2 separate regions of the Homo sapiens genome follow, and region 1 is linked to region 2. The links come from fine-mapping of genetic effects on gene expression. Tissue or cell type: whole blood. Region 2 holds a variant in brackets; the other region holds the start of a gene. All regions are shown on one strand. Distances are between the middles of the regions.

Region 1 (8,144 bases), 24 kb before region 2:
TGAACCTGAGACGCAGAGCTTGCAGTGAGCCAAGATCACGGCACTGCACTCCAGCCTGGGCGACACAGCAAGACTCCATCTCAAAAAAAAAAAAAAAAAAAAAAATTAGCCGGGCATGCCTCTAGTCCAAGTTACTTGGGGGACTAAGTTGGGAGGTCACTTCAGCCTGGGAGGTCAAGGCTGCAAGTTCCCATCTTTCCTTTTTTTTTTTTTTTTTTTTTTTTGAGACCAAGTTTCACTCTTGTCACCCAGGCTGGAGTGCAATGGCGTGATCTCAGCTCACTGCAACCTCTGCCTCCCAGGTTTAAGTGATTCTCCTGCCTCAGCCTCCTGAGTAGCTGGGATTACAGGTGTCTGCCACCACACCTGGCTAATTTTTGTATTTTAGTAGAGACAGAGTTTCACCATGTTGGCCAGGCTGGTCTCGAACTCCCGACCTCAGGTGATCCACCTACCTCAGCCTCCCTAAGTGCTAGGATTACAGGCATGAGCCACTGCATCCAGCCAAGTCCCCATCTTTCTTACTCTTGGTTATAAGGGGGTGCTCTGGCAGCATCTACATCACACCAACTTACTTTTCAGGCCATAGGCCTGGCAGTTTCCTTCTCAAGCAGGAGAGGGAAACCAGAGGCAACGCTGACAAGCCACTTCCCAGCACCCAGAGCCAACATGGGCTACACTGTTTTGTTTTTTTTTGGTTTGTTTTTTTTTTTGCGGAAGGGTCTCATTCTGTTGCCCAGGCTGGAGTGCAGTGCAGCAATCTCGGATCACTGCCACCTCCGCCTCCCAGGTTCAAGCAATTCTCCTGCCTCAGCTTCCCGAGTAGCTGGAATTATGGCCGTGCGCCACCAGGACCAGCCAACTTTTGTATTTTTAGTAGAGATGGGGTTTCGCCATGTTAGCCAGGCTGGTCTTGAACTCCTGACCTCAGGTGATTCTCCCGCCTCCTCGGCCTCCCAAAGTGCTGGGATTACAGGCATAAGCCACCATGTCTGGCCAAAACATGGGCTACTCTTATTCGTTTTTCCTTTTAATGAAAAGCACTCGCTGGGTGCAGTGGCTTAAGCCTGTAATCCCAGCACTTTGGGAGGCCAAGGAGGGCAGATCACCTAAGGTCAGGAGTTTGTGACCAGCCAGGCTAACATGGTGAAACCCTGTCTCTACTAAAAATAGAAAAATTGCCGGGTGTGGTGGCTCATGCTTGTAATCCCAGCACTTTGGGAGGCCGAGGCAGGCGGACCACGAGGTCAGGAGTTCGAGACCAGCCTGGCCAACATATTGAAACCCCATCTCTACTAAAAATACAAAAATTAGGCTGGGTGCGGTGGCTCACGCCTGTAATCCCAGCACTTTGGGAGGCCGAGGTGGGCAGATCACGAGGTCAGGAGATTGAGACCATCCTGGCTAACACAGTGAAACCCCGTCTCTACTAAAAAATACAAAAAATTAGCTGGGCATGGTGGCGGGGGCCTGTAGCCCCAGCTACTGGGGAGGCCGAGGGAGGAGAATGGCGTGAACCCAGGAGGCACAGCTTGCAGTGAGCTGATCGCACCACTGCACTCCAGCCTGGGCCACAGAGCAAGACTCCATTTCAAAAAAAAAAAAAAAAAAAAAGCCAGGCATGGTGGTGGTGCATGCCTGTAATCCCAGCTACTGGGGAATCTGAGGCAGGAGAATTGCTTGAACCTGGGAGACGGAGGTTGCAGTGAGCTGAGATCGCACCATTGCACTCCAGCCTGGGCAATAAGAGTAAAACTCCATTTCAAAAAATACAAAATACGAAAATTAGCCAGGCCTGGTGGCACGTGCCTGTAGTGCCAGCTACTCAGGAGGCTGAGGCAGGAGAATCGTTTGAGCCTGGAAGCGGAGGTGGCAGTGAGCCGAGATCGCATCACTGCACTCCAGCCTGGGCGACAGAATGAGATTCTGTCTCCAAAAAAGAAAGAAAGAAAGAAAGAAAGCAAAAGCACTTGTCAGACGAGAGCTCTGACTCTGACTCCATGGATCATGTGCACCAGAGGCCCAGGCAGCCCCTGAAAGAGAGGGAGGTGCCCTACAGAGCACTTAGCTTTGCGGTCACCGGAGCCTGCCCTCACCAGCCAGGTGACACCAAGTGTTACTAGACCTCTCTGAATACCACCCAAAAGCTGAGAAACAGAGGCCTCTCAGAATTCGCATTACACATGGAATCAGAATTCTGGGCAGCGTGAGGTCATTCTTCACTCACTGTTCAATTCCAATCTCTACCAGGTGTTTGCTGAAGAAAACAAACTGGTTTGAGTGTGTCTCACGAGTCTGTTTCCAACAAGCTTTCCAGAACCCACATAGGAAGCCGAAATGCCCTGGCTGACAGTCTCTTCATCAACATATCCAAAGACAGTATTCAAATTCCCTGATGTGGTAGAGTGTCTGTTCATGTCCCCCTCCCACAATGGCTGAGTCCCAGACCTGGACAGTGACCTCACCACCACCCGTGGTGCGCCCTGGCCCTATTTCAACCCTACTTCCTATGGTGTTCTCATAGCACCGTGGAGAATTAAAGAGGCCACTAAGTAAGGGCACTCTAAATAAACAAAGCACTATAACGGATCTTAACCAGCAGTGGACACACAGCTTCTATAACTAGTCTCCCACTGGGGAGCCTCATTAAGTTAGCAGCTGGGATCCCAACAAGCCCAGGGTGAAAAGTTCTGCAGGGGATGACTGCCAGTTCAGATCCACTCTCACTGTGGCTCTATTTCCACCGTTTCCCTGGATTTCCATTCACAGAGCTCCCTGACATAGGACACTAGAAGGGCAAACGCAGTGTCACCTGCCACTATTACTCAATTACTTGATGACCACGGTGATAATCTGGCACTAAACTGGCTGTGGCCAAAGGCTAGAGAGCCAGAACCTACTTCCAGCAAGCTCCTCCTTGCCCTGTGTCCCCACTTGAAGAGACTGCTAGTGACCACACCTTGGACTTCAATCCACAAGCCAATCCATTCTTTCCAGGAGACAAGGACGCGACTGACAGTACTCTCAACTGGAGAGAAGCGCGGTCTTCCACCCTCCCTGGAGGACACGGTGCTACCCTATTAGCGCATCAGAGGACCCTCCTGAACGCCAAACTGGGAGAAGAGGATGACACACACCCTCTCCTCCAAACAGAGCGAAGACAAAACCTGGGAGAAGGGAAGGCAAACAGTCCCGTTTCATGGCAACATCAAATGAGATCACAGTCCTCATCCCCATAGACTTGGTTAATGGGCGTGCCCCCAACCTATCTTCAAATCTCAGGGTCTCGGCGACGCCCTGGACTCTGGCCCTAAACCCTCCCCCATTACTCGTCCACCTGGGACCAACGAAAACTCGGACATGCCCCTCCGCCAACCCCTCAGACCCCCGCCTACCTGCTCCCCAAATCGAGGCCCGCGGGACACCTGGACTCGGCAGCCGGGGTCCCGCTCTGGGTCCCAGCCCCGCCCCTGACTGCGCTGGGTAGGTGGTCGCTGCGGGACCCGGACCGGCGGAATCACACCCAGAGCCCCCAAGCCCACGGCAGGGATGTCACCCGGGGTGGCGAGGCTCTCAAGCCCGGGTTCAGGCTCTCAGGGGAGCTGGCAGAACCAGGAGCGACCACACTCACTCGCGGTCCCGCAGCCCCGCCGACACCCAGGCGCGTGACTCCCTGAGCCGTACCACCACCCAACACTGCGGTGGGGGTGCGGGAGCCGTCCGAGCGCGTCCTGCACCGCGAGGAGAGCCGGGCCTCCCTAGCTCTCGCAAGCCCAGGAACACAGTCCGAGTCCTACAACTCCGAGGTCTGACTGGGAAGCAGGGGCCGCTGCCCGACAATTACCCTTTTCCACCGCCCCTATTCCGGTGCCCCCCTCTGGGAAGTTCCGAATGGTTCAGACCGCACCAGCTGGGGATGCTGGGGGAAACCATTTCATTAAGCGCGGGAGTATGCTGAAACTTAAAAATCATTTTAAAAAGAGATTTGAGGGTAAATATAGCCAACCTAAGGCTTCCTGTCCACATAAAAGAGAAAAATAAAGAAAAAACGTTATAAGAGGTTGGCAGGCTTTTTTTTTTTGCTTCACCAATGGTTTTTATTAAATTGCTGATGGAACCCGTCCTCTCCCTACATTGAGAGTATGGAAGGTGCGGGAGACGGCCGTCACGTGACGCGGAGAAGGCGCGGCGCCCGTGGGAGGTTGGTTGCAGAACTCGGAACCGCTGTGCGCGCGCATGTGTGGGATTCGGTCTTCCTCCCTCAGTGGGTCTTTTTTAAAAATGTGAAAATCAGTTTTTGAATAATATTCTTTTTTTGAGACAGAGTTTCGCTTTCGCTCTTGTTGCCCAGGCTGGAGTCCAGTGGCGCGACCTCGCCTTACTGCAACCTCCGCTTCCCGGGTTCAAGCGATTCTCCTGCCTCAGCCTCCCGAGTAGCTGGGGACTACAGGCGTCCGCCACCACGCCTGGCTAATTTTTTGTATTTTTGCAGAGACGGGTTTTCACCCTTTTGGCCAGGCTGGTCTTGAACTCCTAACCTCAGGTGATCCACCAGCCTCGGCCTCCCAAAGTGCTGGGATTACAGGCGTGAGCCACCGCGCCCGGCCTGAATAATATTTTTTAAAACTAGAGCGCCCATTACTAAATTTAGCTACTTAGAAGTTAATTGTAAAGCCATTAGTTTGTGATGTAGTGTGGGTCCTTCCAGTGAAGACCGGAGAGAGATGGGAATCAGAGCCTGACCCGCCTGTGCGCGCTGCCCCCTGAGGTGTGGCTGCCCCCTGAGGTGTGGCCGCCCCGGAGCCTTCCGCCGCGGCCGAGGCTATGGTTGCCGCAGAGTCTCCAGAATGTGCTCACCAGGAATAGAATAGAAAAGTGGGTGGTTGTGTTTTTGAAATCAGAAGTCACTTATTTTTTTCTCTTTAAATTTCCATGTTCTGGTCGGGCGCGGTGGCTCACGCCTATAATATCCCAACACTTTGGGAGGCCGAGGTGGGCGGATTACGAGGTAAAGAGATGGAGACCATCCTGGCCAACAGGTGAAACCCCCTCTCTACTAAGAATACAAAAAAAATTAGCTGGGCGTGGTGGCACACGCCTGTAGTCCCAGCTACTCTGGTGGCTGAGGCAGGAGAATTGCTTAAACCCGGGAGGCAGAGGTTGCAGTGAGCTGAGATCGTGCCACTGCACTCCAGCCTGGCACAGAGCGAGACTCCATCTAAAAAAAAAAAAAAAAATCCATGGTCTGTTGAAAACGGGACACGAGAAAAGAACGAAAGTGCAGCTTGTGTTTTCTGCCGTCTTATAGTGGCTTGGTAAAGATTAAGGAATATGGGGTGGCGTTACGAGGTTAGGCATTGCCTTTATGTGTTTAATTATTCTTATCAAGCGAATTCCTCTTGCTGTTGGACAGCGCAAACTTAATTTCTGAGGAGGTAGTAAGTTACAGGGTGATTTTATTTTATTTTATTTTAGAGACGGAGTCTTGCTATGTCTCCCAGGCTGGAGTGCAGTGGCGCGATCTCGGCTCACTGCTACCTCCACCTCCCGGGTTCAAGTTCTTGAAACTAATGTTTGTTAATGAGATTTTTAAGTCAAGAACAAGGTTTTTTTCACCTTGTAACTTTAATTCCAGGAATTACCTTTTTCAGTTTGTTAGTGGAGTTCACCACCTTGCTCAGATTATCCTTATTTCCATGGTGATAGGCTAATGGCGGAAGGTTATTCAACTAGTGTATTTTCAGTAAAAGTCAATGTGCATTTACCACACCTGGGCTCAATTTAGGCCATTAACATCTTTCCCAACACCACTGGCTTCAGCCACCTACCTCTTTTGGAGGTACTTTCTTAAATAAACCTATAAATCTTTAAAAAAAAAATTAACAACTGCCAAATCTTTGCCTCAGTGAATTGTACCAAAGGTTATTTAAATTGGGCTCTCATGGGGTATAAAAACTTTCAAGGTCATGCAACAAAAGGGACATCTTAGAAGTCGGAAAATGTGCCCATTCTCATGGGAAAGATAATTGAAACTCAGCAGTAATGTTCAGAAAGCACAGATACCAATAATGTTCAACAATTCACAACCAAATGAAATGCAATGCTAATCTCAAAGCTTCTATCCCATAATGGAAATTGTATGAAATGATTCCAGAAGCTCTGGATATGTTACTGCCTGGCATGCATACAATCCAGAATGTGTTTTTTCCACCACTGAAACAGGCTCAATCAGAATTAAGATTTTTTTCCACCACTGAAATAGGCTCAATCAGAATTAAGGTTTTTTGATGCTTTTCTGCCTTCTTACTACTGCTAAACCAAGAGGCTTCATTATAGCTGAGTATCCAAACTGATCAATCACTTCCAAGGCATCAGTTGCCAGGACCATAGAGCCAAGTGGCAGGGAAAAGTCACATCTTATTCAGAAATTTGTTTTAGAGTTTTTTATATGTACCCTTAGCCACAGGGGCTCTGATGTAGCTGTAGGATACAGCTGGGCTTTATCTTTCAGTCAAACCACATGTCAATGACTCTTAGTTTCCAGTTTCAGGAAGAAGGGGTGTATTTCATTTGTAAGCATTTCAATTTAATATTTTTAATCACATCTCATATTTTCAAGTTACTATAATTGATTCCCTGTTATAAAAATAATGATCTAAGTTTTTGTTTCTTCCAGCAACTGAGAAAACATTCCGTTTTTAGATGTTTTGAACAGTTTAGGAGTCTGGCCAGCTGCTGAAAGGCAGCAAGCAATGAGTAACATTTCAGAAGGTGAGATAAATGCACAATTTCTTTTTTTTTTTTTTTTGAGACGGAGTCTCACTCTGTCGCTAGGTTGGAGTACAGTGGCGTGATCTTCGCTCACTGCAACCTCCCCCTCCCGGGTTCAAGCACTTCTCCTGCCTCAGCCTCCCGAGTAACTGGGACTACAGGCGCATGCCACCAGGCTCAGCTAATTTTTGTATTTTTAGTAGAGACGGGTTTCACCATGTTGGTCAGGCTGGTCTCGAACTGCTGACCTTGTGATCTGCCCTCCCAAAGTGCTGGGATAACAGGCGTGAGCCACTGCACCCAGCCCATGCACAATTTCTTTCTTTCTCTTTTTTTTTTTTTTTTTCTTTTTTGAGACGGAGTCTTGCTCTGTTGCCCAGGCTGGAGTGCAGTGGCGCCATGTCCGCTCACTGAAAGCTCTGCCCCCAGGGTTCATGCCATTCTCCTGCCTCAGTCTCCTGAGTAGCTGGGACTACAGGCGTCTGCCACCAGGCCCAGCTAATTTTTTGTATCTTTAGTAGAGACGGGGTTTCACTGTGTTAGCCAGGATGCTCTCGATCTGCCTGCCTCGGCCTCCCAAAGTGCTGGGATTACAGGCGTGAGCCACTGCGCCCAGCCTAGCCCATGCACAGTTTCTAAGTTCAGGTTTTAGGTAATTAGACAATCAACTCTGCACATAAGGCATCCAGTCAGTTGCGAGGTATGAGTTATTAGTGGTTCAATAAAGGCCATTAGGATTAATTTAATATTTCTTACCATAGCAATTTCTGTAAGCTTTTAAAAATTAACCTCTCTCCACTAATTAGAATTCATCTGCTATGCCTTTTGTGTTTTAATCTACTACTAGGTGCCTATTAAATACCATGTGTTGACATTTTCGTCTAACAATCAACTATAGAGCCAGCCTATGGATTCAGACTTATTAAATGCTTTTTGCAATTAAAGTTCTCTGATTTCAGCCTTTGATGTTAGGAAAGGATACAGATAGGATTTTCTTTGTTCACTATCATTAAGTAATTCAGTTACTTAAAAAGATAGCCATCACATTTTCTTATTCACAGATACCTGATTTACCTAGTCATTTATTTTCTCTGGCCCCTTTGCAACTGCTCAGACTTAGGTCCAAATAACATAACCTTCCACAAAGTGGGTACCAATTCAGGTTGGAACCCAGAAACTTAGGACTTACAAACCCAAAACTTCATATTTTGTTTTGTGTTTTTTGTTTTGTTTTTTTTGAGATGGAGTCTCGCTCTGTCACCCAGGCTGGAGCGCAGTGGTGCGATCTTGGCTCACTGCAAGCTCCGCCTCCGGGATTCAAGTGATTCTTCTGCCTCAGCCTCCCGAGTAGCTGGGACTACAGGCAGGTGCCA
Region 2 (8,194 bases):
TCAAAAAAAAAAAAAAAGAAAAAGAAAAAGAAAAAGAAAAACATCTACTAAAATGTTAACACAAAGTAATATTTCAATGGGAGAGGTGGCAGATTTAACCCATCCCCAGCTGCCTTCCATCCCAGCCATGCCATCACCTACTGATACAGTCTACCTGTTGAGACTTCTTTGGATTTTCTAGTAAGAAAAACTTGGCTAGAAAAATCCTTTGATGTTTCCCCGTTCTTTTCATTTTAGCACTGGGACATCATGCCAAAAATGGAGCAGCCACTATCACAGATGTAACCTTCTGACTAGCTATGTCCTTTAAAGACACGGTTCCTGCCCACCATACCTTATGGTAGCCCTCCCCAGGTCCCTCTGGCAGGCAGTGCTTGTGAGCTCAGTGTACCACAATCCACCACTTCGTGTCAACATACGAAGGACCCAGGACCTTGATGACTTTGTGAGTCACTACCCCAGCCCTGGAAAGACCATTTCGAGTTGAGACTCTTCCTGTTTGATCAAAAAAAAATTTTTTTTGAGACGGAGTCTCACTTTGTCCCCCAGACTGGAGTGCAGTGGTGCAATCTCGGCTCACTGCAACCTCTATCTCCTGGGTTCAAATGATTCTCCTGCCTCAGCCTTCCAAGTAGCTGGGATTACAGGTATGTGCCACCACGCCCAGCTAATTTTTGAAACCGTTATTTAATTTTCATTTGCTATTTTGCAATTTAACATCTTTTGTAACATGTACTATCTTTTATGTTTGTTAGCATTTGGGTTCTTTTATCTAAACTTCAATTACTAGTCACAAACAGAGTTTGTGTTTTTAATGGCAGCTGTTTTTTAATGGCTACCTCTTGATGGCAAAAGACAGAAATTTACTTAGAATGGTTCTGTTGGCACTTGGGCCAAAAAGAAAATTTTATGGAGAGAATTAGGCTGCTTGTTATTTAAGTCTCTTAGATCCTGGTCTTTTAAACCTGTAGGTCAAGCTGGTTTTTCTGGCTCACAAGTTACACTGGTTTTGATCTTTGACTTGATTTCTCTTTCACGTTCTTCATTTTTCTCTCATAAAAATTAACTTTTTACAAATTCACTACTGATTTCCTTCTATTCTAGAAGCTATGGCTAGTCTTTCTAGAGTATTTGGAAGGATTCTTTTTCTTGCCCATTGACCCTCTCCTCACCTTCCTTCCTCTTCTCCTTAGGATCCTTTATCCTTGTATGAGGTCTGCCCACCTCAACGGCCACCCCGACCCACCTCTCTTCTCTAGCTTCTCCATTGGGCTAGGGGAAGTCACCTCTCCCCTAAGTCCTCACGTAGCCAAATCCATCAGCCTTTTCCATTGCTGGGTAGCCTAGCAAAAAAACAGCTACCCTATTCTGGTTCCTTGGCTCGTCCCCAACCATGCATCACCATGGCTGACACAAGGCAAAGGATGTGCACAGGAACAGATGCACTGTGTTCTCAGCAGCTGTGAACTATGCATATCTGGCCAGACTTCCCAAGAGAAAAAAGCAATCCTCTATTTGTTGAGCTACAGGATTCCTGTAACTTGCAGCCTATACCTTCCTAAAACACAAAAAATTTCATTTTTCATTATTTTTCTGTACTGTTTGAACGTTTGACATTAAGCATATTTTCTATAGTCAAAACCTAGCAGGTTATTTTCATCTTGACAATAAAAATTATAGAATTGGCTTACATCCTAGAAGAAAATAAAAATTATATAATTGGCTTACATCCTAGAAGTCAATTGCACAAAGTTTGTACAACCCTGGCCTAAATGGTAATGTCCGAGTAGTACTATGTTCACATAAGGTGTTCTCATTGGCTGGGTGCGGTGGTTCATGTCTGTAATCCCAGCAGTTTGGGAGGCCAAGGCAGGTGGATCACATGAGCACAGGGGTTCGAGACCGCCTGGCCAACATAGCAAAACCTTGTCTATACAAAAAATACAAAAATTAGCTGGGCGTGGTGGCTCACACCTGTGGTCCCAGCTGCTTGGGAGGCTGAGGTGGGCAGATCACTTGAGCTCAGGAGGCAGAGGGTGCAATGAGCCGAAATCACGCCACTGCACACCAGCCTGGGCAACAGAGCAAGGCACTGTGTCAAGAGAGAAAAAAAAAAAATGTTCTAATAGAGATCAGCACAGACAGAACAGACAGGTTGCAAGGCTGGTGACAGTGCACTGAGGTCTGCATCATTAGCATCCCTCATCTGCCCTGCTGGAGCTGCTGACCTCTCTGAGGCTGCCTTTCACTGTCTCCCAATGTAGCCTTGTCTCCTACCTTTCTTCCTCTTCACCTGCTCCAAATACCCTGCTCTAGCCCTGAAAAGACCAAAGGTATACATCAAATTCTTTCTAAGAAGCCAATCACAAGAGAGTTCTCTCTCAGCACAGAAATCCTGCCATGCTTTATCCCTGTACCTGCTTCCTCAGCTCTGAAAAGGGAGAGAAAGGGAAACATGGCCCCCAGGGGGTCAGGAGCTGCCCTGTGAAGGTGGCACTTTCCTCACCTTTGTTAGCCTCTGAATATTCTTCTTATAAAGAGATGACAAGCATTGCTTCACCAGCCCCATGTTGTTATCGCGAGTGAAGGTTTCACTGTGCTTATTCACCAGGTTTCGGAGTTCTGAGGGGTTGTTGGTTGAATACACTTGTGCTAACTCGTGGTATGCATTGCTAAGAGGCTAAAGATGCAAAGGAGGGAAAAAATTCAGATTAAAACTTCAGAAGAGGCCAGGTGTGGGGACTCACGCCTGTAATCTCAACACTTTGGGAGGCCGAGGCGGACAAATCACCTGGGGTCAGGGGTTAAACACCAGCCTGACCAACATGAAGAAACCCCGTCTCTACTAAAAATACAAAATTAACTGAGCGTGATAGCACATGCCTGTAATCCCAGCTACTTGGGAGGCTGAGGCAAGAGAATCGCTTGAACCCAGGAGGTGGAGGTTGCAGTGAGCCAAGATCGTGCCACTGCACTCCAGCCTGGGCAACAAAGCAAAACTCCGTCTCAAAAAAAAAAAAAAAACCAAAAACAAACAAACAAACTTCAGAAGACTCAAATGTGTATAGGAAGCAAAAACACACTTACATACTATTTTTTAAGCAAGTATATCCCATATTGTCAGGTAACTACACACTGTTACCCTACAAATTATAATTTACCCAAAGCAAATGCCTGGTTTTTAAGACCAGGGATAGAAAGTCACTATGGAGTAATTCATTTTCCACAAAATTTTGTACTACAGACCAAGTAATAACACAGCAGGTGAAAACCCACTGAATTTAGTGAAGGCACACGTCTTCATCAGTGCTTCTGTTTTTCTACTGATAAATCATATAGAGAAGAAAGGAGTCAAAACATTCATCATTCCCAACTCTCCCTCTCTCTTTCTCACACCTCACCAGATGCAACAGGACAATCTGCTACTTCTGCTAGCAAGAAGGAAGACAGGGCCGGGCATGGTGGCTCACGCCTGTAATCCCAGCACTTTGGGAGGCCGAGGCGGGTGGATCACGAGGTCAAGAGATCGAGACAATCCTGGCTAACACGGTGAAACCACATCTCCACTAAAAATACAAAAAATTAGCTGGGCATGGTGGCACACACCTGTAGTCCCAGCTACTCGGGAGGCTAAGGCAGGAGAATCGCTTGAACCCGGGAGGCAGAGGTTGCAGTGAGCTGAGATCACGCCACTGCACTCCAGCTTTGGTGACAAGAGCAAAACTCCATTTCTAAATAAATAAATAAATAAATAAAATGAAAAATATAACAAAACAAAATAAAGGCCAGGCTCAGTGGCACACACCTGTAATCCCAGCACTCTGGGAGGCAGACGCAGAAGGACTGCTTGAGGCCAGGAGTTCAACACCAACCTGGCCAACATAGCGAGACTCTGTCTCTAGGGAAAAAAAAAAAAATCAACTGTTATAGGAGCTTAAACATCTATAGCTGTAAGTATCTAGAGCACAAGTTTGAAAACGGGTTCCTGAGAAATATTCCATTCCAATCAGGTAATGAGAATGTGTAGCAGACATTCAATAAATGTCTGCTCACCTGAAGCTGCTAGGAGAGCTAAATCAGTATAAAACGAAGTTACAGAACTGTATCATTGCAATTTCTTTATATACTCAACATGCTCACGTAAGAAATCAGTTTTATGTAAAAAACTTACCTTAATGAATCTACCCACAATTTGAGATGTATATTTTGGTAGCTGTTGTACTTTGCCAAGTAATATCAAAGACACTAAAATATACTTTTTATATGATTCCAACATGATATGACTGACCGCCATGGCAGGAGTAGTTATAGCCTAGGCAAGAGAAGAATGCTTGCTGTAAAGAGAACATACCACAGTAGCAAACAACAATCAACCACATGTATCACATTAATTATAAGTCAATAATACTTTTTAAATGTCCCATTATTTTTATAACAGCCTTATTGAGATAGAATTCATTTTATTTTTATTTATGCATTTTTTAGAGACAGGGTCTCGCTCTGTCATCTAGGCTGGAGCGCAGTGATGTAATTATGGCTCACTGTACCCTCAAACTCCTTGGGTTCAAGCAATCTTCCTGCCTCAGCCTCCTGAGTACCTGGGACTATAGGAGTGGGCCACCATGCTTGACTAATTTTAAAATTTTTTGTAGAGGCCAGGCGCGGTGGCTTATGCCTGTAATCCCAGCACTTTGAGAGGCCGAGGTGGGTGGATCACGAGGTCAGGGGATCGAGACCAACCTGGCTAACACAGTGAAACCCCATCTCTACTAAAAATACAAAAAAATTAGCCGGGTGTGGTGGTGGGCGCCTGTAGTCCCAGCTACTTGGGAGGCTGAGGCAGGAGAAGGGTGTGAACCCAGGAGGCGGAGCTTGCAGTGAGCTGAGATTGCGCCACTGCACTCCAGCCTGGGCGACAAAGCGAGACTCCGTCTCAAAAAAAAAA[A/T]TATTTTTTGTAGAAATGGAGTCTCACTATGTTGCTCAGGCTGACTCCTATGTTGCTCACTATGTTGTTCAGTCTTGTACTCCTGAGCTCAAGCAATGCTCCCACTTCAGCATCCCAAAGTGCTAGGATTACTGGCATGAGCCACCACGCCTGGCCACTTTCTTGTCTTTTTATTTTTGAGGACGAGTCTCTGTTACCCAGGCTGGAGTGCAGTGGCGCAATCCCGGCTCACTGCAACCTCCATCTCCTGGTTCAAGAGATTCTCCTGGCTGGGCGTGTTGGCTCATGCCTGTAATCCCAGCAATTTGGGAGGCCGAGGCGGGCGGATCACGAGGTCAGGAGATCAAGACCATCCTGGCTAACATGGTGAAACCCCATCTCTACTAAAAATACAAAAAATTAGCCAGGTGTGGTGGCAGGCACCTGTAGTTCCAGCTAGTCACGAGGCTGAGGCAGGAGAATGGTGTGAACCCGGGAGGCGGAGCTTGCGGTGAGCCGAGATCGTGCCACTGCACTCCAGCCTGGGCGACAGAGCAAGACTCCATTTCAAAAAAAAAAAAAAGAGATTCTCCTGCCTCAGTCTCCTGAGTAGCTGGGATTACAGGCGCCTGCTGCCAGGCCCAGCTAATTTTTGCATTTTTAGTAGAGACATTTTCACCATGTTGGCCAGGCTGGTCTTGAATTCCTGACCTCAGGCGATTTGCCTGCCTCGGCCTCCCAGTGTGCTGGGATTACAGGTGTGAGCCACCTCACCCAGCCTCTTGCCTTTTCTTTTTTTTTTTTTTTTTTTTGAGATGGAGTTTTGCTCTTGTTGCCCAAGCTGGAGTGCAATGGCACGATCTCGGCTCACTGCAACCTCCGCCTCTTGGGTTCAAGCAATTCTCCTGCTTCAGCCTCCTGAGTAGCTAGGATTACAGGCATGCACCACCATGCCCAGCTAAATTTTGTATTTTTAGTAGAGATGGGGTTTCTCCACGTTGGTCAGGCTGGTCTCGAACTCCCGACCTCAGGTGATCCGCCGGCCTCGGCCTCCCAAAGTGCTGGGATTACAGGCGTGAGCCACCGCACTCGGACGCCTCTTACCTTTTTAACACCCACTCATCCTGATATTTCAAGATCAAGTTTGCTCATGAGTTAACTATATTTGGCTACAGCAATGATAATGCATCCAGTGGCTACGAAGTGCATTTTTATAATTTTCCGAATGCGTAGTCTTAAAGAGAAGCCACCTTGAAGATTTAACCTGACTAGACACGTGCTTTAATGACACCATCTCTGCCTACTGGCACCTTATGGTGGCCCTCCTCAGGTCCCCTCAACAGGACACATCAACCACTCATTGTGGTATGGTTCAGAGCCACGGATGTGTGTACATGTATGCATGTGTATTATGTATTAGAATTCCAACTAAACCGAGCTCTCTGAAGGTTTTAAATATCCTTTATTACTTAATACATGCTATGAACTAAATAGGAACTTACGAACATCTAACTAATTTACCTTAAGTAAAGTGGTTTATTAATCAATATTGTGTATCTCTTTTTCAGAGTCTGAGTAAACCTCCAGAATATTCTACCAAATTGTGTACTATGTTTCATTACACAGACACAGAAAGGGTGGGAGGGACTTTTACTGTGTACTCCTTTCTACCCTTTAAATTTTGAATCAAGAGAATGTTTCACTGATTAAATAAAACTTAACAAAATACCACACATGGTTTTAGAATAAGACACAACCAAGATCACTCAGTTCAATCTCTTCCTTATATGCAAAGGAAGCTATAAAGGTCAAGAGATGTCATAACTTATTCCAAATCAGATAAGGTATAAGTGCAAGCCTAGATTAGAACCCCCAGACAAGTGCTCTTCTATGCACTGGCGCTGCTCCTCAACTTAGGGATCAGGTTACCACTATTTACATGATCACAGAGAAGTAGTCTCTGAAAGGACCAACACCTGAAACGGAGGCCCTGGGATCAGACCACTCTAGCCACAAACCTATGGGAGCACTTTTTTGATCACACAAGTTCAGAACAACCTCAGCTAATTTTTAGAGAGATTACCTGTTCATAAAAGTAGAGAGCTCTTTCAAAGTTCTTCAGCCCAGTATAGATCATCCCTCCATAATAATAGTAACATAAAAAGTGTTTTGCATCATAGGCTCCATTCTCTTTACAGATATCCATCATATCCACGTCAAGATATGGAAGGGCAGGCTTAAAGCATTTTGCTAGCAAACAAAGCTGTGAACAAATTGATATTAAATCATCACTTTAATTTTACTTAGGCAGGTATTAGCAGAAGGAGAAAATTCATTGATTCCAGAAATTTCCAAATAATGTAATTGTGTTTTACATTTTATTGACTAAAATTATCTAAATGTCAACACATTTCATGTATCTGCTATCTGAAATGCTTAGGACCACAAGTGTTTCAAATTTTGGAATATTTGCAGAATACATACCAGTTAAGCATCCCTAATCTGAAAACCTGAAATCCAATTGCTCCAATGAGCACTTTGAGTGCCAAGTTGGCATTCTAAAGATTTCAGATTTTGGAGCATTTTGGGTTTCAAATTTTTGGATTGGGTTTCAAATTTTCAGATTAGGAATAGTCAACCTGTACTCCATTTTCTTAGCCATTCAGAAAAAAACAGCATTACCTTTTTTTTTTTTTTTGAAATGGAGTCTCACTCTGTCACACAGGCTGGAGTGCAGTGGCGTCATCTCAGCTCACTGCAACCTCCACCTCCCGGGTTCAAGTGATTCTCCTGCATTAGCCTCCCGAGTAGCTGGGATTACAGGCGTGCACCACCACACCCAGCTAATTTTTGTATTTTTAGTAGAGACAGGGTTTCACCACATTAGCCAGGCTGGTCTCGAACTCCTGACCTCAAGTGATCCGTCCACCTTGGCCTCCGAATGTGCTAGGATTACAGGCGTGAGCCACCTCACCTGGGGGAGCATTTCTTTATAAAAAGCTAAACAGCTATAAGGCCAAGCATGCTATAGATGATTGAGAATAGAGAACTCTACAGACAAGACTCACTTATCTCTTAACCTATCCCTACCCATCTGATTAGAGGGAAAAAGAGTGTGTCCTCTTTCTTTACTGAACTAGTGGAATAGAAAGAGACCAGCATGGTGTGATACAAGTAGAAGTGGTTCCTTTAATTAATCCTTTAGGTAAATACAGGGAATTGTGCAACTCAAGAAAGCAAGCCCTTAGAACAGTTATCTAGCTAATGGAG

Evidence for each region. PIP is the estimated chance that this variant, and not a neighbour inherited with it, causes the effect.
Region 1: FLCN starts here. The variant in region 2 is fine-mapped to the expression of FLCN in whole blood (TOPMed, PIP above 0.99).

Annotation. Positions count from the first base shown.
Region 1 is chr17:17,233,517-17,241,660 of GRCh38, forward strand. FLCN (folliculin) reads right to left here and starts at 3,652. Exons shown (of 14, transcript NM_144997.7): 1 at 3,396-3,652. RefSeq lists an enhancer at 3,869-3,978 and a silencer at 4,413-4,598.
Region 2 is chr17:17,257,795-17,265,988 of GRCh38, forward strand. COPS3 (COP9 signalosome subunit 3) reads right to left here. Exons shown (of 12, transcript NM_003653.4): 6 at 7,008-7,187; 7 at 4,172-4,312; 8 at 2,507-2,680. Among named protein-coding and RNA genes, the nearest start is that of COPS3, 19 kb to the right of the region's middle. The variant A/T (reference allele first, on the strand shown) is at 4,946.